Homo sapiens: one gene and its partners. The protein of the gene in region 1 purifies or fractionates together with the protein of each later gene. This does not show direct contact. Each region holds a gene or a part of one and is shown on either strand. Other genes may lie near its edges. The genes, in order: KLK15, DHFR, ARFGEF3, MAN2B2, ANKLE2, STK39 and DNAAF5.

Region 1 (3,875 bases):
ATAAGACAGCACCCACTTGAGACAATAACAGTGAGGTCTCAATAGCATAACAGAGGTAATATACATAGCAAGCATTAGACAAGTGCTGAGAGGCCAACAGCACAGACAGACTCCAGCTTGAGTCCCACACCTGCCACTCCCTGTCTCTTACAGGGTCTTTGAGGGGATTAAATGTGGTTGTGTGTGAGGCAGAAGCATAAGCCTGGCCCAGGTAGTGCCCCTTCAGGTGTGCAAGCCAGGCACGGTGCTTAGAGCTTACATACAACGTCTATGTGTGGTGGGCACCACCGACCTCATTTGACAAGGGAAGGGGCTGTGGCTCAGAGGGACGGCCACAACATCAAGGTCACCTTGGGTGTCAGGCAAACTCCAGATTGAACTCAGCTGCCACACACCAAGAAATTAATTGTAACCTGATGCCTCTCTTCTGGAGAAATTGGGGGGTGGACTTTCATTAACGTTCTGCCACAAATGACCCTCACTCCTGGGGGCCCCTGAGACCCCCACGCCTCCAGCCTCCCCTCCGGCTCTCTCTGTGCACTCACCTACCTGCCTCGCGCCTGCCTGCTGCGCCCAGCTGGGGCCTCCACCTTCCTCTGGCTTGGACTGGCCAGGTGCAGCCTCGGTGCCCAGCTGTTCAGCCCGTACCCTCCGCCCTTCGGAGGACGACCTCACCCTTCCTTTGTTAAGCCCCTTGTCCACCACATCCGCATTCCCCTGGTCTCACGGGGGCCTTTGGCCCAGTTCCTGACTGTGATGGGGAGAGTGTGGGCATTTGGTCTGGCTGTGCAAATCCTGCCCCTGTGTGGGTGGGAGTGTGCATGGCTTCAACCTTCAGGGGATGCATCCACATTGCCCAGTGGAGAGGGGTCCTGGTCCTGTGACCTTGAATGTCTCTAATCATGTCCTTAAGCATAATGCCATTCTGTGTGTGTGTGTGTGTGTGTGTGTGTACATGCACGTGTGCAGTGGGTATACAAGGCCCTGTATGTTCACATCCTCTCCACATGCATGAGCCAGATCCCCATATGTGAAACCCAATCAGTGACTCCACAGATCTGGCTTGGGGGCTGATCTAGAGATGGATAAATATGTCCTGCCCTGGCTGCCTCTGGCTTCAGCTGCATGTCTTTGACCTTGAATGCCCAGCCCCGTGTCTGGGTGCTGCCCCAGACAGCAAGTCCACATCTGAGTGTTGGCCTTCTGGGTTGGTGTCTGCAGCTCTAACTCTACAAAATGTCTTGTGGGTGAATCACGGTTTTAACCTTGACTTTTTTTTGTTTGTTTGGTTTTTTTTGAGACGGAGTCTCGCTCTGCCGCCCAAGCTGGAGTTCAGTGGTGCAACCTCAGCTCACTGCAACCTCCGCCTCCCAGGTTCAAGCAATTCTGTCTCTGCCTCCCGAGTAGCTAGAATTACAGGCACGCACCACCACGCCCAGCTGATTTTTGTATTTTTATTTATTTATTTATTTATTTTTTAGTAGAGACGGGATTTCACGATGTTGGCCAGGCTGGTCTCAAACTCCTGACCTCAGGTGATCCACCCACCTCGGCCTTGGCCTCCCAAAGTGCTGGGATTACAGGCGTGAGCCACCACACCTGGCCAACCTTGACTATTTATTATAGGTAATTCTGTGCAGATGTCTGACTTATGTTGGCCATCTCCAGGATGGACCTGAACTTTCACACGTATGTCCCTGTGACTAAATCCAGGTGTCATTTGCAAAAAACAACTAATATTATTAAGTAGCTACCAGGGCTAGGTATCACTCACCATACATACACACATGCACACACACACATACACATTCCTACCTCATCCTTACAACAATCTTCATTTTACAGATGAGGAAACAGAGGCACAGACAGGTCGAATAACTTACTCAAAGTTTCACAGCTAGTACATTCGAACCCAGGCTTAAGGACCCATCTTTGTCCAGACCCTGTATGCAAGTGTCTGTGACACTGGATGCCAAGACTCACACTAGAGATGTTGAATTTAGGTCTGAACAATATCCAATTCTGTGTGTGTGTTTGTGTGTGCATGTGTGTGTGTGTATGTATTCATGTCTTAACCATCCATATTCATATACACATATGAACATCTGTGCTGTGATTCTTTTTTTTTTTTTTTTTTTTTTTTTGAGATGGAGTTTCACTCTTGTCACCCAGGCTGGAGTGCAATGGAGCAACCTCCGCTCACTGCAATCTCCGCCTCCCGGGTTCAAGCGATTTTCCTGCCTCAGCCTCCAGAGTAGCTGGGATTACAGGCACCCGCCACCATGCCCAGCTAATTTTTTGTATTTTTGTTAGAGACAGGGTTTCCCCATATTGGCCAGGCTGGTCTCGAACTCCTGACCTCAGGTGATCCACCCGCCTCGGCCTCCCAAAGTGCTGGGATTACAGGCATGAGCCACCGTGCCCAGCCTGTGCTGTGATTCTTGAAGCTGCAACCCATGTGCATGCAAGTGAATTTCAGCTTCCAGTCCTGTCCATAGCTGTACCTAAGTGTGGAAGCTGGATGTGCATGTATGCATGTCCATGACCTTGTATAGCCACATCTGGGACTCATACTGCACACTGAATTTGGCTGACATGTCCAGACTCTGGGGCCAAGGCTGGGTCACACATACTGAGTGGCCACATGCGTTTGACGTCTGTGACAATTTGGTGACCGTGAATGACTGGTTTCAAGTGACCACCTGTCTGAACCTGTATCCAGTGCCCCTGTCTCCACCCCCAACCACAGAGGACTTCTTGCCCTCTGGTCTGTTCCCCTTCCTCTCTCTCCCAGAGTCTTATAGCAAATGGGGTGGGGGCTAGAGTTCTGGAGAAAACAGGCAGCGGTTGTAAATAAACAACAGGGCAGGCGGAGCATGGTGGCTCACACCTGTAATCCCAGCACTTTGGGAGGCTGAGGCGGGCAGAGCATTTGAAGTCAGAAGTTTGAGACTACCCTGGCTAACATGGTGAGACCTCGTCTCTACTAAAAATACAAAAATTAGCCAGGTGTGGTGGCGGGCACCTCAGCTACTCGGGAGGCTGAGGCAGGAGGATCACTTGAACCCAGGAGGCGGAAGTTGCAGTGAGCTGAGATCATGCCACTGCACTCCAGCCTGGGCAAAAGAGTGAGACTCCGTCTCAAAAACAACAACAACAACAAACAAAAACAGGGCAGGGTGTCTTGAGAAGTTAGGGGAAAGGCATAGGCATATAGTAGTTAGGGCAGGGTGCAAGGAAGGTGTAGGAGGCAATGTAAACGTCCCTGTCCTCAGGCATCCTCTACCCCTTCTCTTAGCAGCCCAGGATGGTGACAAGTTGCTGGAAGGTGACGAGTGTGCACCCCACTCCCAGCCATGGCAAGTGGCTCTCTACGAGCGTGGACGCTTTAACTGTGGCGCTTCCCTCATCTCCCCACACTGGGTGCTGTCTGCGGCCCACTGCCAAAGCCGGTATGAAGGCAGGGGCTCAGGGTCCTGAGGGAGCCTGGTTCGGGGGGAAGAGCTCCTAGATTTGGGGGAAGACGGAGGCAGACGCCAGAACTCCTGGGTTCTGAAAGACGAGGAGGCCGGATGTCAAGCCCCTGGGTTAGGAAGGAGTGTGTGTTTCAAAGCCTTCGATCTCTGAAGGAGGAAGGAGAAGACTAGTTCCAGCTTTTGAGCCTCAGTTCTAGGGATGTGAGAATCCTGGATTCGGGGACAGACCAGGAGGGGGCTGGGAGTAGTTGGAGGGGATCGAGTTCTAGGAGTGTGCCTGACTTCAGACTCGTTGGTCCTTGAGGAGCAGGGGCTGGAACCATTGGCTTCAGGGTCTTGGGAAAAGGTAATGGGATGTCGAGATTTCTAAAGGGTCGGGAGACCTCGGGTTGCCCACTC
Region 2 (4,482 bases), on another chromosome or scaffold:
GAGTTGAGGCTTTCCTGAAGAAATTTCACCTGTACCACTTCAGCCCCTGCTGGAGAATTCCAGCTTGTCCTTTCTGATGGCCCGTTTTACAGATTTTTGGACTCACGTACCCAGCCCCCATAATTGTGTAAGCCAATTCCTCGCAATAAAACTCTTTAATATACCTGTATCTATCTACTACTGGTTCTGCTTCTTTGGTTGAATCTTCACCAATACACATGGGAAAAGAATACTATGACTACTGTTCCCAAGAAAGTAGTGCCCTAGGATACTGCATTCTTTTTGGTGATTATATTATTAGACTAAGAATGATTAACATGCCAGATCCCAGACCTTCCCCTTAGATCCTGATATGGTTTGGCTGTGTCTCCGCCAAAATCTCACCTTGAATTGTAATAATCCCCACATGTCAAGGGTGATACCAGGTGGAGATAAATGAATTATGGGGGGTGGTACCCCCCATGATGTTCTCGTGATAGTTAAGTTCTCATGAGATCTGATGGTTTTATAAGGGGCCTTTCCCCCTTTGCTCGGCACTTCTCCTTCCTGCCACCATGTGAAGAAGGATGCGTTTGCTTCCCCTTCCACCATGATTTTAAATTTCCTGTGGCCTCCCCAGCCATGAGGAACTGTGAGTCAATTAAACCTCTTTCCTGTACAAATTGCCCAGTCTTGGGCAGTTCTTTATAAGAACATGAGAATGGATTAACACAGGTCCAATTCTGGCCACCCCTCAACCTCCCAAGCCATTGGAGTTGACTTCCTGGGCAGTCTTAATATGATTACCCCTCCCACTCTCCAGTCACCAGGGCATATCCAGGCTTCATGAACTACTGACTCCAACCCTGGGTTGGAGGACAGGAAAATTCTTAGCAGAGGCTAACTGGAGATACCCGCTTCTCTCCAGGATCTCTAGAACCATTTCAATACTTTGAAATGTTTTACCTTCAGACACTGGGTAATGAATGTTAAGTACAAAATATTATTGGGTATTGTGGTTAACTAGGAATAACAGAGTAGAAGATTATGACCCATTTCAGCCCATCCTAAAATTCACATTTTATTGCATTTAGGGTTGGGTCCAGAAAGGGGATCATCACTTAATTTTAGCAAGTCCCAAAAAATAGTTGTTTTGACTTTATGTGAAACTACAGGTTATTGATTACACTGTATAATTTATATTTGGGCCTACTGAATGATGGTTCAAGATAACTTGCAAATCTGATACCACAGTGAGCTATTTAATGTTTAATGTAACTTTTCAAGGTGATGAAATCAATTACTCAGGTAGTAGAATAAGTTATTGTCATGTAGTATAAATAACTGCTTATTAATTTTCTATAATCACCTTTGTGATATTAAGCAGCTTCATCAATAGCTCCTTTTATACAATTTCATTTTATCATATACTGATCTCCACTATGAGACATGATTTTCTTGTGGTGAATTTATGTTAAGGTACTTACTTGAGTTCTCTGCTGAGAACTAAATTAATTCTACCCTTTAAAGGTCGATTCTTCTCAGGAATGGAGAACCAGGTCTTCTTACCCATAATCACCAGATTCTGTTTACCTATAAAATCACAAAGAAAGCCTAAGTATATTTTGGGAATATACATATATTTTCATGTATTTATATACAACATGTCCTTGAATAACATCGTTTTCTTCTAACGTTGATGAGAAAAATAATCAATTCCTGGCCAGGGCCACCGTCTGTGTGGAGTCTGCATGCTTTTCCCATGTCTGCATGGGGTTTCTCCAGGTATTCCAGTTTCCTTCCACATCCCAAAGACATGCACATTATTCTTCTTAAATGTATGTATAGCTCATATTTACTTCAGTGTTTTCTATTAGAAGTGTTTTTGGCCTTCATTTAGAAGTTTGGTGATGTTTTTGTGACCAGCAATATGCCCTAGGAACTTAACTCTTGTGTACATCCAGTAGCCTATGGTAAAATTGGTTTTGCTCTACATTGTTTCACTTAAAGTCACAGTTTCCAAGAACTCACAGATGACATTGAGGACTTATCTATGTGCATAGATATGATGGACATCCTGACATTTAGTGGATCTCCTTTAAAAAACTGAACTTAAAAGTCTCTTCACGGGCAGGTCAATTTCACTGGTTGAAAGTAAGAGACAGCTGAACCCTCGTGGAGCCATTCATACAAGTCCCTATTTAAGGAACAAGTGATTATGCTACCTTTGCACGGTTAGGGTACCGCGGCCGTTAAACATATGTCACCGGGCAGGGGTGCCTCTAATACTGATAATGCTAGAGGTGATGTTTTTGGTAAACAGGTGGGGTAAGGTTTGCCGAGTTCCTTTTACTTTTTTTAACCTTTCCTTGTGGGCATGCCTGTGTTGGGTTAACAGTGGGGGTAATAATGGCTTGTTGGTTGGTTGTAGATATTAGGCTGTTAATTGTCAGTTTAATATTTTGGTCTGATGTAGGCTTATGTGGAGGAGAATGCTTTCATGTTACTTATACCAACGTTAGTTCTTCTATAAGGTAATAGATTGGTCCAATTGGGTGCAAGGAGTTCAGTCATATGTTTGGGATTTTTCGGATGATAGGTGTTGAGCTTGAACGCTTTCTTAATTGGTGGCTGCTTTTAGGCCTACTATGGGTATTAAATTTTTTACTCTCTTTACAAGGTTTTTTCCTAGTGTCCAAAGAGCTGTTCCTCTTTGGACTAACAGTTAAATTTACAGGGGGATTTGGAGGGTTCTGTGGGTAAATTTAAAGTTGAACTAAGATTCTATCTTGGACAACCAGCTATCACCAGACTCGGTAGGTTTGTCGCCTCTACCTATGAATCTTCCCACTATTTTGCTACATAGACGGGTATGCTCTTTTAGCTGTTCTTAGGTAGCTCGTCTGGTTTCGGGGGTCTTAGCTTTGGTTCTCTTTGCAAAGTTATTTCTAGTTAATTCATTATGCAGAAGGTACAGGGGTTAGTCCTTGCTATATTATGCTTGGTTATAATTTTTCATCTTTCCCTTGCGGTACTATATCTATTGCGCCGGTTTACAATTTCTATCGCCTATACTTTATTTGAGTAAATGGTTTGGTTAAGGTTGTTTGGTAGTAAGGTGGAATGGGTTTGGGGCTAGGTTTAGCTCAGAGTGGTCAAGTTGAGTTGAAATCTCCTAAGTGTAAGTTGGGTGCTTTATGTTAAGCTACACTCTGGTTCGTCCAAGTGCACTTTCCAGTACACTTACCATGTTACGACTTATCTCCTCTATATAAATGCGCAGGGGTTTTAGTTAAATGTCCTTTGAAGTATACTTGAGGAGGGTGACGGGCGGTGTGTACGCGCTTCAGGGCCCTGTTCAACTACGCACTCTACTCTTAGTTTACTGCTAAATCCACCTTCGACCCTTAAATTTCATAAGGGTTATCGTAGTTTTCTGAAGTAGAAAATGTAGCCCATTTCTTGCCAGCTCATGGGCTACACCTTGACCTAACATCTTTACGTGGGTACTTGCGCTTACTTTGCAGCCTTCGTCAGGGTTTGCTGAAGATGGCGGTATATAGGCTGAGCAAGAGGTGGTGAGGTTGATCGGGGTTTATCGATTACAGAACAGGCTCCTCTAGAGGGATATGAAGCACCGCCAGGTCCTTTGAGTTTTAAGCTGTGGCTCGTAGTGTTCTGGCGAGCAGTTTTGTTAATTTAACTGTTGAAGTTTAGGGCTAAGCATAGTGGGGTATCTAATCCCAGTTTGGGTCTTAGCTATTGTGTGTTCAGATGCGTTAAAGCCACTTTCGTAGTTTATTTTGTATCAACTGGAGTTTTTTACAACTCAGGTGAATTTTAGCTTTATTGAGGGGAATTGATCTAAAACACTCTTTACGCCGGTTTCTATTGACTTGGGTTAATCGTGTGACCGCGGTGGCTGGCACGAACTTGACGAACCCTAGGGTTAGTATAGCTTAGTTAAACTTTCGTTTATTGCTAAAGGTTTATCACTGCTGTCTCCCGTGGGGGTGTGGCTAGGCTAAGCGTTTTGAGCTGCGTTGCTGCGTGCTTGATACTTGTTCCTTTTGATCGTGGTGATTTAGAGGGTGACTCACCGGGGCAGGGATGCTTGCATGTGTAATCTTACTAAGAGCTAATAGGCTACGACCAAACCTATTTGTTTATGGGGTGGTATGAGCCTGTCGAAACATTTTCAGTGTATTGCTTTGAGGAAGTAAGCTACATAAACCGTATGGGGTGTCTTTGGGGTTTGGTTGGTTCGGGGTATGGGGCTAGCAGCGGTGTATATGTTGAGTAAGGTGGGCAGGGAGTTGCATTGATGGGGTTAGTAGAATGTGAGTTGAGGGAGGATGATGTGTTAGTTGAGGGGTGACTGTTAAAAATGCATACCGCCAAAAGATGAAATTTGAAATCTGGTTAGGCTGATGTTAGGGCTCTTTGTTTTTGGGGTTTGGCAGAGATCTCCTTTAAAAAACTGAACTTAAAAGTCTTACCAAA
Region 3 (3,594 bases), on another chromosome or scaffold:
GTCTCATCTCATCTCAAATGGCTAATATTTTGGTGGCCAATGAAAGATGTAAAACAACTGGCAAGCAAACAACTATTCAAAAATCTGTAAGCCAGGAGCCAAGGCTGTAAAGGAGCTGACATGGAAACATCTCATTAAAACGACATGGATGGAAGAAATTCAAACACTACATACTTAAATTTAAAATCACCTTCAGTACAAGTCAAAGGGTCAACATGATACAAATGATCATCCATAGAATCAATGTTTCTAAATACAAAGACAAGAAGCTTAGATTTATCTCACTGTTCCATAGAACTTATACATTCATTGTCTTCTAGCTTGTAAAAACCAATTGTTGGTATAATAAAACTGGAAACTGGGAAGATTGAGCAAGACTGCTGTATAGAATCCAATCCCAAGTCATCTGCCCAAGGGTAGATTCAGTTTTTCTCTAGCGTTTGATAAGTCAGGCTGATCTTAAAGGTAGAAGTTGGAAATTTTTTCAAGGCAGTGGTTCTCAAAGCATAGTTCCCAAAACAGCAGTATTGGCCTCACCTATAAACTTGTTAGAAATACAAATTTCCTGATTTACTTAACTGGGAACTCTGACCATGAGCCCAGCAATCTGTGTCTTATTTTAAAAAAAGGCCCTCCAGGTGATGCTGATGTGTACTAAAGTTTGAGAACCACTGTTCTAAAGACAGAAGATACTAGACAACCACTGGTTAAACCTTCAGGATAGGAATTAACAGTACGAACAGTTGTTGGTGGTTGAAAAGGGTGGAAGGACCATAATTAGATGGGATTCACCAGCAGTGGAGTGCTGTTTTGTCACTAAAGTGGTCAGCCACTCTCTCCTCCCTGGTACCCCTTTGTAGTATTGTACAAAGATACAGAGAAAAGGTTCTGTATGGTGCTAGTGGTGTGGTAGTGGTTTCTCTTCAATGATGGAGTGGTACCACAATTTATAAAGAAACCAATGATCTCAGGAGATATTTTTGGTCTGTCTTCCCTGAAATAAGAATTGTGTTTTGGAAATCTAAAGGGTGTTCTGTTCCAAAATCTTAAGTTATTAGTTATTTCCACATCAAATAGCAAACACTACAATACAGCCAGGGAAAGAGGATCTTCCAAACAAACAAAAAAGGTATGTTTTCTAGATTGCTCCACTACTAAATGAGAACTTTTTTTTTTGAGGCATAATTATAAATCAAGTTCTTGATCAATTTTACAAATCTTTCCCAGTGACAAGCTCATATTTCCAATAAAAAGTGCTCTTTTGCTTTCCTAAGGCCACACTAAATCTCCCTGGGGTCACCTAAGTGGTGCCCAAGCATATTGAAGTTTTGTCATCTGCTTACTGCAAGACTCTGGATTTTCCTTCTGCCTGTTACCTTGTCTGTAAAACAAGTGGAAATGTGTAGATGTTATGGCACATGGTTACTATGGATGTCGACCTGATGCCCTTAGCACCTGGCTCTTCAAGAAATCCTGTCCAACCAGCTGCTTCCTCTTCAGAGAATGTACATTTTGAAAAATGGTTATCCATTATTTTGCATATTCCCAAACTTTGTGCTACTAATTTAGTACCATGTATTTCCCAGAGAAGCAAGTAAAGAGGCACTGTTGGCTACAGGGCACTTTATTCTGAGTTGATTAAATGATATTTGAAAAAGGTTTACAAATTGTGCATGCCGTTCCAGACACACACTGCCATGTTCTTCTGTGTTAATAGCTGGCCATGAATAGTATTATTCCATCATTTCCACCTAATTCAGTGAGTTTTCTAAAGTAACACTGAATGTCTGCTTGAAGACTAAAGTTTAGATTTTGGTTTTATTTTCAAACACTTGAAATGTGTTACATGTGATTTTTTTATGTATAAACATGATTCATTTTCTTTTTTCAACTTTATTTTTAAAAACCTCCATAACATCCCAGACAGATCTGAGATGTCAAATAGTCTCATTTTCATGGCCTCGTTCCTTGAAACTTTTTTTCATACTAGAGTGCTTACTCTATGGACTTAGAGCATGTTGTCAGAGAGAGAGTATGGCCCTTGAATTCAGAAACACCTCTTTTGCAACCAACTTTGCCTTTTACTTGTTATCTTGGGCAAATTTCTTAACCTCTCTGGGTCTGTGTTCCCCTCTGAAAAAATGAGGAACACAACACTTGTCTCACAAGGTTGTTGTGAGGACTACGTGTGATAATACAGGTAAGGGTTTGCAATCACAGTGACATTCACTACTCGCCTCCTCCCTGCTATTTGTAACCTCTTGCTATTACTATCAAAGGTCTTCATTCTGTTTGGCTTGATGGGACTGATACTAATGGATTTTCCTTTCTGAGAAAACTTTCCTGTATAAGCAGTATTGTGATGAATCTGGCAAAGTCAAGGGTATCTATTATATAACTGCATTACCGTCTCACAGCGAAGGCTACTTGACTCTCAACTCACTCTGTATAAGCCTCATTTTAAAACAACAAGGACAAAAAGCCTAATGATCATTGCACAAATATGTTTCAATTTCAAGGTACTTCTGAATTATATTAACATTTTTGTCATGTTTGATTTAAAAATTTTAGTTTTATTTACTTGAGACGAAGTCTCACTTTGTCACCCATGCTGCAGAACAATCTTGGCTGACTGCAATCCCCACCTCCCAGGTTCAAGCAATTCTCCTGCCTCAGCTTCCCGAGTAGCTGGGATTACAGGCAGCTGCCACCATGCCCGGCTAATTTTGTATTTTTAGTAGAGACGGGGTTTCACCACGTTGGCCAGGTTGGTCTCGAACTCCTGACCTCAAGAGATCCACCCACCTTAGCCTCCCAAAGTGCTTGAGATTACAGGAATGAGCCATCACGCCTGATTTAAAGTATTTTAATGCGAGCTGTTAAGTATGTTAGCATCTGCCTGGGTTCTTATCGGTCAGTCATTACATAGACCCCAAATCATAAAGGTGTTCTAGTTTTATATCTATGGGGAAGGCTGGAAAATTACCACAAGGGGAGAGAGAGAAGGTGGTGTAAAAAGGCAGCCTAACTAACTATTTTTAAAAGCAGATCAGGAGATACAGGAGCTAGGTGAGATGCTGTGGACAGTGCATGAGGTTCAATTGTGAAAACCGATGTCCTCATTAATGACAGAGAGAACTCTGTCCCTCCATATACTTGGCTGGGCCATCATCAGTCCAGGGTCTCTTATACTTGGAGTTTTCCAGATGTTTGTTTCATGAAGCACACTTTACCAAAATTTAGGAAAAGAAGAGAAAGATCTCAACTTTAAGGTAATATACTTTTGGCTATAAATACAGGCAACTAAAAACAATGTATAAACTCTCATTCTGCTTAGGTCTGTAAATACATGCTAATAACTGTTCGTAACTTTAAAAGGCTGCCTTGAATTTTGTCTTACTGTTGCTGCAAAAGAGACTGTGAGGAGAGAAACACCTGACACTTTCAGAGACTGGGAGGGAGGGAAACAAAGTTGGGGGAGTGGGCAGCTGAGTCACAGGAACAGGGCAAGAGACTGAGCTGGGCAGCCTGGGAAGGTGCCACTCCCCTCTCAGTGTTCTTCATCTCCTCCCTTTCTTCTCCACCTGCTGGGAA
Region 4 (4,482 bases), on another chromosome or scaffold:
AGGCTCTGGCCCATGACATGGGGTCTGTACACATGGGTGTCCTGCTGGACAGCTCAGAGTCAGCATGACAAAAGCCCGTTCCTGCACTGGTTTCGCTTGCAGACCACAGCCTGGGTGAGCCAGTTCCATCTCTTGGGGGTGCCCTCTGCTGACGGCTCACGGTTCCTGTCTGCAGGCTCTGTCCGTCTCCTCGTTTGTGACCCATTCTGGGACAGCATGGAGTCTAAGGCCACACTGGCTGTGGGTGGGGTCTCAGGGCTTCTAGATGAGCTGAGTCACATGGCCTCGTGAGTGCTACGCAGGCCACTCAGATGGCATCTGGAGAGAGAGGCTTGCCAGCCGGTGTCTGTAAGACCTTGTGCAGGATGAGAATGACATCTTCTCTCTCCTGCCTCTGCAGACAGAGTAACCGAACGGTGCGCGTGACCCAGGAATTCCTGGAGTACCACGTCAACGGGGATGTGAAACAGGGCCCCATTTCCGATAACTACCTGTTCACACCGGGCAAGGCCGCGGTGCCTGCGTGGGAAGCTGTGGAAATGGAGATTGTGGCGGGACAGCTTGTGACTGAGATCCGGCAGTACTTCTACAGGTGCTTCCCCTGGGGTGACCCCCACAGCCCGGCACACAGTCAGCGCACGCGTGCAGGCAGCTCAGTGAATGAGGGTCTGTCTTTGCTCTGAACCCCAGCTTCCGGGCCGTGGTTGACACGTGGTCTGATGAAGAAATGAATTGCTCTGGTGTCTGCATGCTGGCTGCGTTTGCGTGTGCTGTGTCACGTTGGTTGGGAGCTAAGTTCAGAGCTGGGAGAGAGACCCACAGACCCTGGGGCCCACAGAGCACCTGTTCTTCCATGATCAGAGCAGACGTAAGGCAGGCCCGGCATGGCAGCCCTGCGGTGTCGGGGAACCAGGCTGCTCCCAGCCGCTCGGGGTCCTGGGTGGTGCTATTGTCCACATGGCCCAAGAAGGCTCCCTGCCTTTCGGCGTACCCTGCCCTGCCCACCCTGCCCACATGAAGGAAGGGAAGCAAAAAGGAAGCATCTAGAAGGTTCCTGGAGCTTCACTTACTGATGCTCCCTTCTCCTCCAGGAACATGACAGCACAGAATTACACGTATGCAATCCGCTCCCGGCTCACCCATGTGCCGCAGGGCCATGACGGGGAGCTGCTCTGCCACCGGATAGAGCAGGAGTACCAAGCCGGCCCCCTGGAGCTGAACCGTGAGGCTGTCCTGAGGACCAGCACCAACCTAAACAGCCAGCAGGTCATCTACTCAGACAACAACGGCTACCAGATGCAGCGGAGGCCCTACGTTTCCTATGTGAACAACAGCATCGCCCGGGTATGTCCTGCAATGCCCACAAGGCACGCTCCCAATGGCGCCTTTCCTGGACCCATTAAGCATCAAATTGCAGCAGTAGAGGCCAGTAGAGGCCTCCAGTGAGAATGTTTTTTTCCTTTTTTTTAAGATGGAGTCTCACTCTGTCACCCAGGCTGGGGCGCAATGGAGCGATCTTGGCTCACTGCAACCTCTGCCTCCCAGGTTCAAGCGATTCTCCTGCCTCAGCCTCCCGAGTAGCTGGGATTACAGCCGCCTGCCACCATGCCCAGCTAATTTTTATATTTTTAGTAGAGATGGGGTTTCACAATGATGGCCAGGCTGGTCTTGAACGCCTGACCTCAGATGATCCACCCGCCTCAGCCTCCCAAAGTGCTGGGATTACAGGTGTGAGCCACCGCGCCCGGCCTCCAGAGAGAATTCTTTTAAAGCCTGTGTATCTGCCCGTTCAGGGCTTGAGCGTGCAGGCTGTGAGTCAGACTGGTGTCTGAATTCTGGTGCTACCACAGACAAGAATAGTATGTGCCTTGGCTTGTGCCTCGGTTTCCTCTCCTGTAAAATGGCTCCTTCATCAAAGGGTCATTCTGAGGATCCATGAGATGATGCGTGGCCAGGGCTTGGCCAGGGCCTGCACCCATGTCAGCTGAGCTGTATGCTAGGAAGCCACAGAGCTGGTGTCTGAACCCCAGTCTGTTGGTCTCCAAAGTCAGGGTCCCAGCCCCATGCTGCTGCTGTGCCTATGGGGAGCACCAGCTGGGGTGGCCAGAGGGTGATGCCTGACCTACCTTGCCCTTTGCCCCAATCGCCCACCTGGCGATGTTTCTGTCTGCAGAATTACTACCCCATGGTTCAGTCGGCCTTCATGGAGGATGGCAAAAGCAGGCTTGTGTTGCTGTCGGAGCGGGCACATGGCATCTCCAGCCAAGGGAATGGGCAGGTGGAGGTAGGAGGCACGGTCTGTCCTACAGCAGCCCCTCGCGGCCCCCTACAGGCATGCCCAGGTGCAAGCCGGGCCTCTCGGACAATGCCTTCCCGCAGGTCATGCTCCACCGGCGGCTGTGGAACAACTTCGACTGGGACCTGGGCTACAACCTCACGCTGAACGACACCTCAGTCGTCCACCCAGTGCTCTGGCTTCTGCTGGGATCCTGGTCCCTCACCACTGCCCTGCGCCAGAGGAGCGCACTGGCGCTGCAGCACAGGCCCGTGGTGCTGTTCGGAGACCTCGCTGGTAAAGGGGCACCCTTTCAGAGTAACATCATCACTGCCTCAGCACCAGCCAGGCCAGGGCGGGCCTTGGGAGGGGCCTGTGCCCTCATGACTCTGGGCAGCTTTTGGGCAGGAAGCGACCTCAGGGACCTCTAGCCCAAGCCCCTCATTTAACAGATGGGCAAACTGAGGGCAAACAGTGGCTCACTTAAGGTCATACAACTAGGAGGTACAGAGCTGGGACTCACCCATTTCACCATATGCCTCTTCCCTGTATCTTCTCCATTTTCTTCTCTGATGTATCTTTTCCTTTCTTAATATGACATTATGTCACCATGTCACTTTAGGTCTGGAGGCTTAGCATTTAAAAGACTGGTTTGTTAGCTGGGCATGGTGGCGCATGCCTGTAATCCTGTAATGCCAGCTACACGGGAGACTGAGGCAGGAGAATCGCTTGAACCCGGGAGGCAGAGGTTGCAGGGAGCTGAGATTGCACCGTTGCACCCCAGCCTGGGTGGCAAAGCGAGACTCTGTCTCAAAAGTAAAAATAAAAGACAAGTTGGGTCTGAATCTAGGTGTGCTGTCACCAGGTGGGGGTCTTTCTAATCTATAGTCTAACCTAAAGGACTTATTCTGTACCTCCACTGAGCTTCTGTAGATCAGATCAACAACCATGTAGTTCTGTGTCTCTATAAAGTAGCAGAACATGAGAAACATTAAACAATGATTACATTTAAAGATGGTCTTTTGGAGCTGCAAGACCTAGATACAATTTGCTGCCATTCTCACTAATCCTTAAACTCTTTTCTTTTTCTACTCACCTATGGAGGTTTTGATTAGCATGTGCTTTTAAGGTTCTCCCTGCTTTGGTTTTAGAGCCAGAACCCAGGGCAGTAGCCAGCAGGCAGGCTGTCACTCACCCATGCAACAAGCATATACTGAGCACTTGCAGTGTGCCTGTGCCATACACTGGAGATGCAGAAGAGCAGCCCGGACCCAGGAGAGTTTTCCTGGGCTGTTGGACAGGGGAGGCATGCTCGTATAGAGCCAGGATTCAGGGTGGAGAAGGAGCCATGCCATAGAGGGCCTGGTGTTTCGTGGGTGTAGAGGAGTGTGAGACCACAGCTGGGAGGAGGTCAGGGATCAGGTCCAGGGGGTGTCAATTAAGGTTCTTTGGAAGTAACAGAGCCTGAAGGGGCAGCTATTTGGGCAGAGCCTGGAGAAGCTCATGGAATCTAAGGAGGAGCTGGATACAAGGTCCAGACAGGCATGGGGCAGGGCAGCTCTAGGCATATCAGGAGCAGAGGCTCACAGCCATGTCTCCCAGGACGGCCATTGAGCCACCTCTGGTTCCCTTGCTTCAGATTCCCAGAAGAGGAAATCTGATTGGCCTAGCAGGGTCAGGTTCTGCTCCCAGACCAGTCAGTGGTTCCTTCTGTGTAGCTGGGGCTTTTCCTGCAAAGGGAGATGAGGCCATGTCTGAGAAAGCCCCATGGCTGTTGTCAGCTCCATCCCACCTGGCCTCACTCTGGTCTCTGTTGGTTGCAAGTAACGGAAACCCAACTTGAACTAGCTGAGCCCCCAGGGAGAGTGTATGGTGAGGCCCACATAACCAAGGGAAGGGCAGGGTGTAATTGGGCCTCAGGGCCTGGAGCCCTCGTGAGGCTGTCCTTGTTCGTCTCTCACCTGCACTTCTCTCTGTCTGCAGACTTTCCTTCACCTCCCACCTGGGATGTGACTCTGAACAGCTCTGGGGCTGCTCTCAAAGAGCAGCTCTGTCTTCCCCACTCAAAAGGACCTAAGACTTGGACTTTCCAGTTCCAAGTGCAAAAGTCCTAGGGAAAGATTCTGATTGGTCCTACTGGGGTCAGGTGGCCCATGCCTGGACCAATCAGCATGGCCTGGGGTATTGTAAGAAGATGGTAGCTCCAG
Region 5 (3,897 bases), on another chromosome or scaffold:
GTTCCATCTGCTCAGGCCAGATCGATCCTTGCACACTGTTGTTTTGTGTGCTGGGTTCTTGAGTTTAAAATGTAGTGATATTTGTCTGGGTGTGGTGGCTCACGCCTGTAATTCCAGCACTTTGGGAGGCCGAGGTGGGTGGATCACAAGGTCAGGAGTTCAAGACCAGCCTGACCAAGATGGTGAAATCCTATCTCTAATAAAAATACAAAAAATTAGCCGGGCGTGGTGGCAGGCACCTGTAGTCCCAGCTACTCGGGAGGCTGAGGCAGAGAATTGCTTGAACCCGGGAGGCGGAGCTTGCGATGAGCCGAGATCACGCCACTGCATTCCAGCCTGGGCGACAGAGCAAGACTCCGTCTCAAAATAAAAAAAAAAGTAGTGGTATTTTAGAAGTCTTTATGTTTTTACCAAAGATGTTTTTGCTTCTTTTATTGTGCTTTCTAGAGAGGAGCCATCAAAACTCGATCAGGATGTTTTGGCCGCTCTTGAATGTGCAGACGTCGACCCCCATCAGTTCCCGGCCGTGCACAGATGGAAGAGTGCTGTCCTGTGCTACTCACCCTCGGACAGACAGAGGTATGTGGGGCCCGGACAGCCTGTCACCCGCAGGGCAGCTTTTGGAAACTTCTGCAGGGTCCAGTTCCACTTCATGCGAACCTATCAGTGGCTTTTCCCAACGCTGGCAGGCCCGTCAGCCAGGCTGTGGATTTGGGTGTTGTGGCTCTCTGCACACAGGACAGAGCTCTGGTTGGGTGGAAAAGCTGAACGGGTCAGCTCCTGACAAGCTGAGGGCTAGAAGGGTGGAAGCAGCAGGGTTTCTACTCAGATCACACAGGATTCTCCGGGAAACCCCCATGAGCTTGACTCTCCCAGTGCCCGCGGTGCCAGGGTTCAGCAGTGCCTCTCCTCCACCCAGACGCATGTGCCCACGGTGCCAGGGTTCAGCAGTGTGTCTCCTCCGCCCGGGCGCGTGTGCCCGCGGTGCCAGGGTTCAGCAGTGCGTCTCTTCCACCCGGGCGTGTGTGCCCGCGGTGCCAGGGTTCACCAGTGCCTCTCCTCCGCCCGGGCGCATGTGCCTGAGTCTGGGGCCATTATTCTCCGACTTTTGCTGTTCATCTCCGGGCCTGTGCCCGTCTGCTAACAGTTCTTTCTTGCTTTCCGCAGTTGGCCCAGTCCCGCGGTGAAAGGAAGGTTCAAGTCTCAGCTGCCAGATCTCAGTGGCCCTCACAGCTACAGTCCGGGGAGAAACAGCGTGGCTGGAAGCAACCCCGCAAAGCCAGGCCTGGGCAGTCCTGGGCGCTACAGCCCCGTGCACGGGAGCCAGCTCCGCAGGATGGCGCGCCTGGCTGAGCTTGCCGCCCTGTAGGCTTGGCGCTGGGCTCTCGGTTTGTTCTTCATTTTTAAAGAAGGAAGGGTCATATGTTTATTGCTAAACTGTCAAAAAGGAATATATTCTGATTAAATTATTACTCCTCACTTTGAGGGTGTGAGAATTTTAGAAGATTTAAATGTTCTATATAACACTTAGATTTCTGATATTTTGGAAGAAGTTAGAAGTTAATGAAAGCAAACTCAGTTACCAATTTTCTGGAAAATATCCATGTGGTAATGGTAGACTTTTTAGGTGGCAATTTCTAGGTCTGAAATATAGCAGAGGAAAGGGCGCTGAGGCAGTTGCAGGCAGGCAGCCCTGTACTTACCCTGTACTCACCTCATCCGACAGACGCTGTGGATGAGGAGGGGCTTGGCGGAGGCGTGAGCACCGATGTCCCTTTGATAACCTGCACTCACCAAGATGAACTATTTGCCGCCCTGTCTTTTCCTGGGTTGGGGGGTGGCATCTGATGGTGGCAGAGTGCCTGTTGGTTCGCCCGTGGGTCTCATGGTTCAGACAGAGGGAGGTGGACGGCAGGGATCAGGGAGCCAGGAGCGCGCCTCAGACTTGCAGCAACCATTGTGATTTGGGTTGTTCGGAATATTTAAATTACTGATCAGAAGATGAAAGTAGCTTTTCTCTTGGGAAGTCTTGCAGCCCGTGGGAGTGATACCAGGAGCAACACAGAGCTCAGCAGCGGCGCCAAGGTGTTCCCTGTTTCCTCAGCACGTGAGCCTTCACCGCCTGCTTCATTCAGGAGCCAGTGCAGCAGTAATACAGTCTATACATTGTTCTGTTTTCAAATTTATCCTGAGGCTTTGTTGAGCATAAATGATTATACGATAAAGGTATCCGTTATTTTGGAACTCATTTCAGTTGGGATCTCCTGTATGCAGAGTGTTGCATTTAGAGGTTTGAGTCCCATCTTGGTTTCTTGCCGTGCTGACTGTAGCCTTCACCTTGACTTGAATGAAGGTCTGTGGTTGGAATGTGTGAGGAGCCGCTGAGGTGTTCAGGAGGTGCTGCCTGGAGGTCGGTTTCTTCCTGGGTGTTACGGGCAACTGCTCACACAGTTGTTTCTCTGTGAACATTTCCAGTGTTTAATCCAAAATGAAAACCCACCAATGCTTTTGCTAACTTCAGTGCCTTTTATAAATCATTTTTAAATTTCCTGAACTTGCTTTTTGAGGATATACAGGGATATTAAGTAGACGCAGGATTGTTTTTGTTTGTAAAAATTCTGAATTGAAACTTTGTTTTAAAAAAAGGCTTCTTTCTTTCATATGACAAGAGATAGGTCAGGAATATTGGAATCAAGATTTAAATGTTAAAATTCGATTTTGTTACACAGGGTGTGTTCATTTGTTTTGTAGCAGACAAGATCTAGATCCCAGACAGAAACAACACATGCTATTCTAAAAAGCCGCATTTTAAAAGGCACCTTGGTTCTCAAAAGAAATCAGAATATGGATATTCGTAGTGATGATCTGTTTTCTCTAAAATCTTACCATATTGTCTGTATATGGTTGTAAATTCAAATGGAAAGTAAAACGTTTTGGCCCTGATTTTGTATGTGGACCACTGCTCCTGATTTCCCAGGTCTTAGGCCACCTTTGACTGTTTCTCCGTTTGTTTGTGGGCAGCGATTCCAGTCCCAACGGAGGCATTCTCGTGTGTCCCGGGGGGTTATGTCCTTCACAAAACACTTAATGAAATGAATTACTTCAAAACCGCGTGGTAATAATTGCAAGCTTTCGGAAGGATCCCTCACTTGTGCCCAGGCGCACGGCACTGTTTTGGTTGGACGGCCATCAACCTGGGTGCCCTCAGATTCGCTCGCTGTTTTTAAGCCCCTTTCTTGACTCAGTTGTGAAAGATTTTCTGGCATCCGTTAAAAGAGCACAGATTTTACCGTTGCTCTTGGCAGTGGGAAACCTTGGTGACATTAACAGTTGCTGTGGTGGCTTTGGTTGGAAAGTGCCCTTCTCCAGCGTGGTGGCAGCTGTGAGGGAGGCGCCCGGTGAGTCTGCTGCTCGTTTCTGGGTAAAAGCAGCCATGGTGCTGCGTACCAGCCGTGGGAGTGCCAGCGGCGCCATGGCAGGGACCACAGCCAGGTCCTCCAGAGCCGTGTGGATGTTTCCAGAAGCCTGCAGAGTTTTCCCAGGGAAGGGCTGATGGAAACCCTCATTGGGGCCCGGCTGTGCGTGCGGGGTGCAGGCGTGTTTGTCGTGGTTGGAAACCCTGTGACTGCTCCAGCTGCAGATTCCCGCCCGTGCTCCCTCCTTAGAAAAGGCTTTGGGATAAACGTCGGCATGGCGACCCCTGGCAGCTGGCCGCCATCTGGTGGCATTGCCTTTCCCACCAGTCTCATTGAGGCTTCTGGTGTGCAGTTTTCACTTTGGCCAGACAGAGGCTATCGTTACTAACATGTGAGAAGTCTTCAGTCTGTCCCAAACCAGGGGACGGTTTCCATCGTTGACGTCGCTGGGCCCCTGTAACTCACCCAGTCCAGACACCCT
Region 6 (4,482 bases), on another chromosome or scaffold:
TGGCAGGACTTCTTTCTGTTTGCAGTCCCAGCAGTGTTAATTATGGTTGGTCAGTTTAGTGGAAAAAAAGAAATTTACCTGAGGAATTTGAGAACAAAAACACCTGCTTATTCTACCCTGACTTTTGCGCATTTGCATTGTGGGAAGGGCTTTTCTACATTTAAAGTTTATCTCATATTTTCCCAACTAAAAGAGAAAGAGTTGGCCTGTGTGGAGGCCCTGTTATTGAAAAATCAAATTGCTGGAATAGGTTTTTCGCAAGGGCTTAATGTTTATAAGGAATTACAAACCTGTTTCCATTTAGGGTTTAATGCTAGTTGAGAGATTAAGACTGAACTTGTGGTTAAGCACTTTTGCTTAAACATTACACGCAGAAGTTAGCAGTTCAAACACTGAACCAGTTTCAACATGAATGCCAGTTGACAGCCTTTGCTTCTACCCGCCATACGGCAGGTGTCATATGATATGACTCCAGCAGTGTGAACCGTGACCAGCAGCAGGAGGCTCAGATGTGCCTGAACAGAAAACCAAAGGAGGCACCGTGTTTTAACTTTCCAGCATGGCACGGGCACGGAGGACTTTTTCTTCATTTCCTTCTGGGCAGAGTTTGGTCCCCCAGGATTAAGAGAGAATAAGTTTACTAAAATCCAAACAAAGCAGGTTCAGTTGTTTGACTTCAGTTTTAGAAAAATAAACACAGGATTTTGCAAACCTAAAAATAAAGTTTTCTCTTTATTGTATTGTTGTTCTTGTGTTTTAAAACGTCAGTGGAGAAATTGTAATGCTCTTAGGAGTATTCTGGTTCATAAGTTTATTCATGACCTGGAAATGATGTAAAATCGATGGGAGGGAGCTTTATATTTACAGAGGGGTTAAAAATGTTGGAAATTATTAAATTCCTTCTTCCAGACATTGATATCCTTGTCTTAGTAGATTTCAAATATTTCTGTCTTTTTGGAGGCTTTCCGACCTGTTTATACTCTTCAGCCTTGTTAATCTTTGTTCCTTACCTCTCTAAAGAAGGAATTTGGGGGTGAGTTGAGCCCCCAAAAGTAGGTACCCCTACCTTTAGAAGTATAAGGGGCACTTAAAGCTATGCCAGTTGAAAACTTAGTTTATTTGTTGGGGGTGTTAATAATATTACCTAGATTTGCTAAACAGGGAATGAAAGTGAATCATATAAGTGTTTACTTGGCCATCCGTAATGGAATGGAGCAGCCTCAATGAACTTCTCATTCAAAGAATTGTAGTCATTGAAGTACTAATTTCTGTATTTGAATTAGGTGATTCCAGCAATGTTGTTATCTTTGCTGAATTTCTTCTGAGAAACCCTAGACTCCTGCCTCAGCAGGAGTTTGTTTGATTTTCTTAGGGTTTTTGCAGGATGCACCTTTCTTTATGTAGTTTTATACTAGATTTCTCAGCATTGCTTCACTTTTGTCCCGGGTGGTCATTTAGAATGACCTAAAAGTAACAAATTGCCATCTTAGTCAACACGAAGAATTTGAGTTCTAGAATCCTGGACATGGTTTGACAGAGGGTTCCTTTGAATGCTTTATTTCTCTCCTGTGAGGCATTGTTTATCCATTCAGGTGCGTTTTACTCAGGTCCAGGTAATAGCACATATGGCCAGGTCTTTAAGGAGCAACAGCCTCTTGTAAAATGAGATTGTAAATAGCCCTGGGCATTCCCACTTTGCTCTGTGCTCTCAGAGTTTCTGTGGATTTCTATGGTTTGGGGGTTAGAATTGGTTTTTATAGATATCCTAGAGGCAGTTTGAGGACAGTGGTACCTTCGCTGGCGCTAGGGTAAGGGAGCCGGAGCACTGAGTGTGTTCTGATCTCCCAGACCTTTATACCAGGCTGCCTTGCTGCTGCAGTGGGTTCTTTGATCTTGATTAGTTTGTTTGTTGTTGTTTTTAAAATACTAAATGATGTCTGAAATGCTTTGTCTCAAGACAGGGCTTTGATTTTCATTTCATTTCACTTTCTTTTTTAATAAATAGAAAAATGTATATAGAAATGTTCTTTTGTATTTTGTATTTTTTTTTTTTTGATAAAGGGTCTCACTCTGTCACCCAGGCTAGAGTGCAGTGGTGCAATCATACCTCACTGCAGCCTCGAACTCTTGGGCTCAAGTGATCTTCCCACATCAGCCTCCTGAGTAGCTGGGTCTATAGGTGCAAACCATCATGCCTGCCTAATTTTTTTTTTCTTTTTTTATTTTTAAGAAATGGGGGTCTCACTATGTTGCCCAAGCTGCTCTTGAACTCCTCCGCTCAGCGATGCTCCGGCCTTGGCTTCCCAATGTGTTGGGATTACAGGCGTGAGCCACTGTGCCTGGCCTCTTTATATATATATATATATATATATATATATATATATATTTTTTTTTTTTTTTGTAAGAGTCTTGCTCTGTTGCCTGGGCTAGATTGCAGTGGCGCCATCTCAGTTCACTGCAGCCTCTGCCTCCTAGGTCCAAGCAGTTCTCCTGCCTCAGCCTCCCGAGTAGCTAGTATTACAGGCCTGGCTAATTTTTGTATTTTTTGATAGAAACAGGGTTTCACCATGTTGGCCAGGCTGGTCACAAACTCCTGGTCTGAAGTAACCCGCCTGCCTCAGCCTCCCAAGTTGCTGGGATTACAGCGTGAGTCACTGTGCCCGGCCTCTTTTGTATTATTTTTATTGTGGTAAAATATACACAACAAAAATTGTACCATTTTAACCGTTCTTAAAGTGTGCAATTCAGTAGCATTAATTATATTTACAAGATAAATACTCTTTTAAATGTGCTGTCATGGGGCTGGGGGGAGAGATCTCAAGATCTCTCTTGAAACTGTGGTAAAGTGACTGCAATCCTTTATTTATGCATTTGATTTTTAACTAGTGATATTATGAATTCTTCCCTGACTTTTATGGTTTATTGTATAGTACATTTTGTGATGGTGTTTGAAAATAAGTTGCAGCAGTGCCGGCTCTGGAGTCTGACAGCCTGGCCTGTTTCATGTCCTGCAATGGCGGTCACTGACGCTGCGACCTTGAGCAAATGACTTAGATGTGTCTGCACTCAGTTTCCTCATTGGTAACATAGGGATGATAAAAATAGGGTTGTGAGGAATGAGAGAATGTAAAGCACTGAGAATCGTGCCTGGCACACAGCATGCTTTCAATTAGTCTTAGCCATAACTTCTATAGACTTCATTTGCTAATCAGATGCAAGTTATCAGGAGAGAACACAGTCCTATCTTTGGCAGGATTCTGGAGTGGCTTGAAGATTTCTGTGCTATGTTTCTAGCAGGGAGGAAGTGGGAAAGAGAGGTTGTTCCCTATTCCCACTCTTGTGCTGGGCTGCTGGAAGGGGCTTACAAGGGGAGAGGCCCCTGGGGATCTGGCTTCCCCTTGCACCTCCACTGCTGTGGGAGGAAACTGAAGAGACCTGTGGAGCTCCTGGCAATTTGGACAGCTCAGGGGTTTAGGTGCCAAATGGCCCTCTGACAAGTGATGAGAGCATCCTGCGGGAAGGTTGCTGAAGAGGAGCAGCCCATTATGAGAGGGCTCCGAGAACAACCTGCTAGGACTGCACTTTTCCTCCACCTCTGAGTTTGCCCGGAGGCTGCCATGCTGGCAGGAAATGCTGCTGACTAAAAGAAACGCTCCCTGTGTGTCCCAGCCAGTGCGAGGACAGAGGCCTTCATTTTCAGATAAAGTCATCACCATTGCTTCCCTGTCTCCTTCTTTCCCTCTTTGCTTTTCCCTCAGTTTATAAATATTCTCAAGCCTGTCTCTTATGTTTAAATGACAAAAGAGAACAAAACAAAACACTCTCCCTACTTCTTTCTCCTCTGGCTACTCGGTTATCTCGTTTCTTCCTTTCACTGCTAAATTGTTGGAAGGAACCTCCCATTCCCTCTCAGCCCACTGCAGTCTGGCTTCTGCCCTTTCCCTAAGAAACCCAAGTTACTCTCTGAAATCACTGTGACTCTTCTGTGGCCAGAGCCAGTGGACACTGCAGTCCTTTTCTCTGCTCTCTGCAGGGTTAGGTGCCATCTTTCATTCTCCTTTTGGAAAGGCATTTGCTTGAGCTTCCATGCCATGCCTTCCTTCTGGACTTCCTGTACTCCCTTGCCTGCCCCAGATCCACATCTCTGTCTGTCTGAAGCTTCAATTACCACATCAAATGCTGAGGGTCTTCCTGACTGTATACCAGTGTTTGGACTACCTTTTTAATGTCTTCGTTTGAATGTTTCACAGGAACTTCATACAGTTAAACTCATTGTCTCTCCACCCTGGCCTCAGTCCTAATCTTGTTTCTTCTATATTCATCATCTTTAGAGCCCTCAAGGGCAAAACCTGCTGGCCATCCTATACTTTCCTGTCTTTGTCCATCTCTCACATCTGTTTGGTCACCAAGTCCTAAATACTCCACCTCCTTGAGATCTTCTTTGATTTGACTCTGACTCTTCATGTCAGCCACCACTGGTTT
Region 7 (4,482 bases), on another chromosome or scaffold:
TGTCTCTCTGATCATATGGGGACGGCTTCGCAGGCGTGTCTCTCTCATATGGGGACGGCTTCGCAGGCGTGTCTCTCTGATCATATGGCGACGGCTTCGCAGGCGTGTCTCTCTCATCATATGGCGATGGCTTCGCAGGCGTGTCTCTCTCATCATATGGGGATGGCTTCGCAGGCGTGTCTCTCTGATCATATGGCGACGGCTTCGCAGGCGTCTCTCTCTCATCATATGGCGATGGCTTCGCAGGCGTGTGTCTCTCTGATCATATGGGGACGGCTTCGCAGGCGTGTCTCTCTCATCATATGGCGATGGCTTCGCAGGCGTGTGTCTCTCTGATCATAGGGGGACGGCTTCGCAGGCGTGTCTCTCATCATATGGCGATGGCTTCGCAGGCGTGTGTCTCTCTGATCATAGGGGGACGGCTTCGCAGGCGTGTCTCTCTGATCATACACGTCAGCACGTGTGGCAAGTGTGTTGTTTGCATCTCTGTGTGGCTCTAAATGTTTGTTTTTTGAGACAGGGTCTCGCTCTGTCACCCAGGCTGGAGTGCTGTGGCGCAATCCTCCCACCTCAGACTCCTGCGTAGCTGGGACCACAGGCATGCACCACGGCACCTGGCTAATCTTCCTGTTTTTTATAGAGATGGGGTCTTTGCCATGTTGCCCAGGCTGGTCTTGACTTCCTGGGCTCTAGTGATCCACCTGCCTTGGCCTCCACAGGGCTAGGACTGCAGCCGTGCACCGCCTCTGTGAATGTTCTGAACGACGGGGCATTTGTCAGCTTTGCGTCCACCCCAAGACTTGTTTTGAAATGGTGAGGTTGAAACTCACAGGTGTCCCTTAAATGTGATGTGCGGTAACTTGAGTTGTTGAGGTTTTGCTTGTGAATTTCTCATTCTTCTTTCCCTTTTTCGTTCCAGAGCGCCGCCCTGTGCTGGGCTGCCGGGAGCTCGTCTTCAGGAACCTCTCCAAGATCCTCCCTGCCCTGTGCCACGACATCACCGACTGGGTGGTGGGGACCCGAGTGAAGTCGGCACAGCTGCTCCCAGTGCTGCTGCTGCATGCCGAGGACCACGCCACGCAGCACCTGGAGGTCGTCCTCCGGACCCTGTTCCAGGCCTGCACCGACGAGGAGGCAGCCGTGGTCCAAAGTGTAAGTGGCCGTATTCCAGTCGTGGTCGCGGAGCTGTAACTCGAGCTTAAGATCCCGCCTCTGTGGTGTGCGGGGCCCGAGGCTGTACTGTAGCCAAGACAGCGTTCCCCTCACCCCCGGGCCGCAGGCCCTCCCCACACCCAGCCCCTGGGAACAACTGATCTCCTTTCTGTGCCCGTAGGTAACAGCGTGTTGAGGGTGAACCCTTCATGCTCATTTTCAAGCACACTCGGGGGTGCAGTGCCAGGTGCATGTTGTGTAGACGTGTTGTGTAGACGTGCCGTGCACCAGACAGACAGGGCCCGGGCTGCTGACACAGGACCGAGATGCCCAGCGTTCAGCATTGACATCTGGACTGTCCTGAGGGCCCTTCCAGGCCTCGCAGGGGCTGTGGGAGCACCCAGACGGGGGATGATGGCACAGCTTCGGGTGTCCTGCGAGTGGTGTCCCTGGTGCAGTCCTCTTTCTCACTCCCTGTCCACACTCGGCTGCTGGTTATCGCCTCGTCACCACTGGGTACGCACGAGGGAGTCCCATGCTCAGGCCTCTCCTCCTCACTAGGCCGGGCCACGCCCTGCGCTGACAGTCACCACCATGAGGACTTCACACCCACCTCACAAGGATGCTTCCTAGTGCTCAGGAGAACAACTAAAGCTTTGACTTGAGATTTCAGTTGAAAATATCCTCATCTTGAACCTTAAATTCCATTGCAAGGTAGCCTGGCCAGCAGCTTTTACTTCTAGTGGTCCAGGTCACTGTTACTAGCCCAGCGTAGTGGCGTGCACCTGTGGTTCCAGCTCCCGGGAGGCTGAGGTGGGAGGATCGCTTGAGCCCGGGAGTTTGAGGCCTCAGTGAGCTATGATTGCGCCACTACTCTCCAGCCTGGGCGACGGAATGAGACGCTGTCTCAGATAAAACAAAAAAATCTAAATCATTGTGACTGATTTAAAGTAAATGTTCCAGGTTCCATGTTATTTACATGTCATGTTTCTGCTTTTCAAAAACTACCGTGAATTTAAAATTGTCTGTAGTTCTCTGTGGAACCTACAGGAGAGCAAGAGACACGGGGGTGAGGCTGAGAGGACGAGAGACGTGTGTGGGATCCGCTGTGGAATCCCACGGTGCAGAGGGGCTGGTGTGTGTGTGATCCACTGTGGAATCCCACAGTGCAGAGGGGCTGGTGTGTGTGATCCGGTGTGAAATCCCACGGTGCAGAGGGGCTGGTGTATGTGTGATCCGCTGTGGAATCCCACGGTGCAGAGGGGCTGGTGTGTGTGTGATCCACTGTGGAATCCCATGGTGCAGAGGGGCTGGTGTGTGTGTGATCCGCTGTGGAATCCCACGGTGCAGAGGGGCTGGTGTGTGTGTGATCCGCTGTGGAATCCCATGGTGCAGAGGGGCTGGTGTGTGGTGTCCACTGTGGAATCCCATGGTGCAGAGGGGCTGGTGTGTGTGTGATCCGCTGTGGAATCCCACAGTGCAGAGGGGCTGGTGTGTGTGTGATCCGCTGTGGAATCCCACGGTGCAGAGGGGCTGGTGTGTGGTGTCCACTGTGGAATCCCACGGTGCAGAGGGGCTGGTGAGTGTGTGATCCACTGTGGGCTTCCACGGTACAGAGGGGCTGGTGTGTATTGATCAGCTTAGTGATGGGAAGGTTGGGTCACTGGTGTCCGATGAGGGGTGTGTGGTGAACCCCACAGCTGGGACACAGCATCCTTTGGGCCAGACTTCACTGCCTGGGAGGCGTGTCCGGCTCGCTGGCCTCAGGGACGTTCTGAGACCACACCCGGACCCTTGTACCTTTCCTGAGGGCTCTGAGCATGTGCCAAGGACTCACTCTGCCTAACACGGGGCTCTGTCTGGTGCACGGCTGTGTCTGGGAGGCCACGGCGCCGAGAGCAGGAGCCCGGCTGAGACCCTCGGGTTTGGCTCTGAGTTTTCTCATGTTTCTTTCTCGCAGTGTACCAGATCCGCAGAGCTCGTCGGGACGTTTGTCAGCCCTGAGGTGTTTCTGAAGCTGATCTTATCGACGCTGAAGAAGACGCCCTCTGCCTCCGGCCTCCTGGTGCTGGCCTCCGCCATGCGGGGTTGCCCCCGAGAAGCCCTCCAGCCGCACCTGGCAGCCATCGCCACAGAGCTGGCACAGGCCCACATCTGCCAGGCATCTGAAAACGTAAGAGCACTTGGGAGATGCGGGAGTGGAGAGGAGGAGCCTCCCCTGCCCGGCCGTCAGCCATCGTAATGACATGTCTGTGGGTTGCCCTGTGCCGCCAGGCTGGGCTGTCGGAAGCACCCAGCGACGTGTCTGTGGGTCCGCCCCGTGCCGCCAGGCCGGGCCATCGGAAACACCTGCAGTAACCGGAGTGCCCTCGCTGATAGCCCTTGTTCCGGGGCCTCGTCCTGGGCTGTGCAGAGCTCCAGCCCCAGCCCCAGCCCCAGCTGCAGGCGGCCGCTCACGTTTACATTCGTTGCTGCCCCTTTCTTGGCCACACACCACAGTTCACGTGTTTGATGACTCAGGAGGCGTCCATGGCCGGGACCCTCTGGCCCATGCTGCTGGGGGTAGATGTGGGGTCCACGTCATCCCACCCCTGAGGAGCGTGGTCGCACGTCCACCATCCCATCCAGTCCCCAGGGTACCTGCACAGATCGCACGTCCTCAGGGGGCACTGACAGCCTGTTCCCCATCAGCCCTGCCTGGCGTTCCGATCTGTGCTTCTCACAGCCCAGCTGAGGATTTGCCAGAGACATTTGTTTAATTTTAAATTGAGCAGCAAATCCTTGAGCTCAGAAGCTGGAACAGCCTGGGTAGTTGGGCTCAATTGTTTGGAATAATCCATAGTTGTATTCCATGGAAGAAGAGGTGATGGCTTTGCTTTCATTTGAAGGTGAGTGGTCCCTGTCAGTGTGTGTGTTGGACTCAGCACCCCAGATATTTCTGGGACACAGGGCTGCCCCCACCAGGCGGCCGTGCCATGCAGGGCGGGCCTCAGCTCACCCCTGGAGGCACTTGCTCCGGCTCGATCGTTTCCGGCGGCTTCTATGGCCCCAAAGCTGGCCTGGGGCACGGGGACTTGCCACTGTGCTCTCAGCCCGGCCTGTCCTGTGTCAGGCTCCCTCTCCGTCCTCAGAACGAGAGGTGGGGCTGTTGACAGTCATTTTTGTAAACTGTTTTAAGAAACCTGTAAGCAGTTCCTGGAATACATAGAGGGAAGGAAACGGAGCTGGGGTAAGGAAGGGAGCGGGGGAGGGGCCCGGGCCGCGTGCTCATGGCATTTCAGCCATGCTTCAGCTTTTCCCAAAACCCGTTTTTAACACATCATCGAATGT

Evidence for each region.
Region 2: the proteins of KLK15 (region 1) and DHFR purify together in Homo sapiens (affinity purification with mass spectrometry; one large-scale study listed by BioGRID and IntAct). This does not show direct contact.
Region 3: the proteins of KLK15 (region 1) and ARFGEF3 purify together in Homo sapiens (affinity purification with mass spectrometry; one large-scale study listed by BioGRID and IntAct). This does not show direct contact.
Region 4: the proteins of KLK15 (region 1) and MAN2B2 purify together in Homo sapiens (affinity purification with mass spectrometry; one large-scale study listed by BioGRID and IntAct). This does not show direct contact.
Region 5: the proteins of KLK15 (region 1) and ANKLE2 purify together in Homo sapiens (affinity purification with mass spectrometry; one large-scale study listed by BioGRID and IntAct). This does not show direct contact.
Region 6: the proteins of KLK15 (region 1) and STK39 purify together in Homo sapiens (affinity purification with mass spectrometry; one large-scale study listed by BioGRID and IntAct). This does not show direct contact.
Region 7: the proteins of KLK15 (region 1) and DNAAF5 purify together in Homo sapiens (affinity purification with mass spectrometry; one large-scale study listed by BioGRID and IntAct). This does not show direct contact.

The regions. Positions count from the first base shown.
Region 1 is NC_000019.10:50,827,239-50,831,113, reverse strand, and holds part of KLK15 (kallikrein-15 isoform 4 preproprotein), read left to right. Parts: exon of another isoform or gene 1-15; intron 16-549; exon of another isoform or gene 550-584; intron 585-3,298; coding exon 3,299-3,452; intron 3,453-3,875. UniProt on the Homo sapiens protein: Protease whose physiological substrate is not yet known.
Region 2 is NC_000005.10:80,647,923-80,652,404, forward strand, and holds part of DHFR (dihydrofolate reductase), read right to left. Parts: intron 1,573-4,482; coding exon 1,467-1,572; intron 1-1,466.
Region 3 is NC_000006.12:138,339,211-138,342,804, reverse strand, and holds part of ARFGEF3 (brefeldin A-inhibited guanine nucleotide-exchange protein 3), read right to left. Parts: 3' UTR 1-3,594. UniProt on the Homo sapiens protein: Participates in the regulation of systemic glucose homeostasis, where it negatively regulates insulin granule biogenesis in pancreatic islet beta cells. Also regulates glucagon granule production in pancreatic alpha cells.
Region 4 is NC_000004.12:6,608,707-6,613,188, forward strand, and holds part of MAN2B2 (epididymis-specific alpha-mannosidase isoform 1 precursor), read left to right. Parts: intron 1-400; coding exon 401-592; intron 593-1,091; coding exon 1,092-1,344; intron 1,345-2,173; coding exon 2,174-2,284; intron 2,285-2,379; coding exon 2,380-2,572; intron 2,573-4,482.
Region 5 is NC_000012.12:132,724,714-132,728,610, reverse strand, and holds the end of ANKLE2 (ankyrin repeat and LEM domain-containing protein 2), read left to right. Parts: intron 1-447; coding exon 448-579; intron 580-1,167; coding exon 1,168-1,369; 3' UTR 1,370-3,108; downstream 3,109-3,897. UniProt on the Homo sapiens protein: Involved in mitotic nuclear envelope reassembly by promoting dephosphorylation of BAF/BANF1 during mitotic exit.
Region 6 is NC_000002.12:168,240,465-168,244,946, reverse strand, and holds part of STK39 (STE20/SPS1-related proline-alanine-rich protein kinase), read left to right. Parts: intron 1-4,482. UniProt on the Homo sapiens protein: Effector serine/threonine-protein kinase component of the WNK-SPAK/OSR1 kinase cascade, which is involved in various processes, such as ion transport, response to hypertonic stress and blood pressure.
Region 7 is NC_000007.14:753,670-758,151, forward strand, and holds part of DNAAF5 (dynein axonemal assembly factor 5), read left to right. Parts: intron 1-919; coding exon 920-1,152; intron 1,153-3,112; coding exon 3,113-3,325; intron 3,326-4,482. UniProt on the Homo sapiens protein: Cytoplasmic protein involved in the delivery of the dynein machinery to the motile cilium.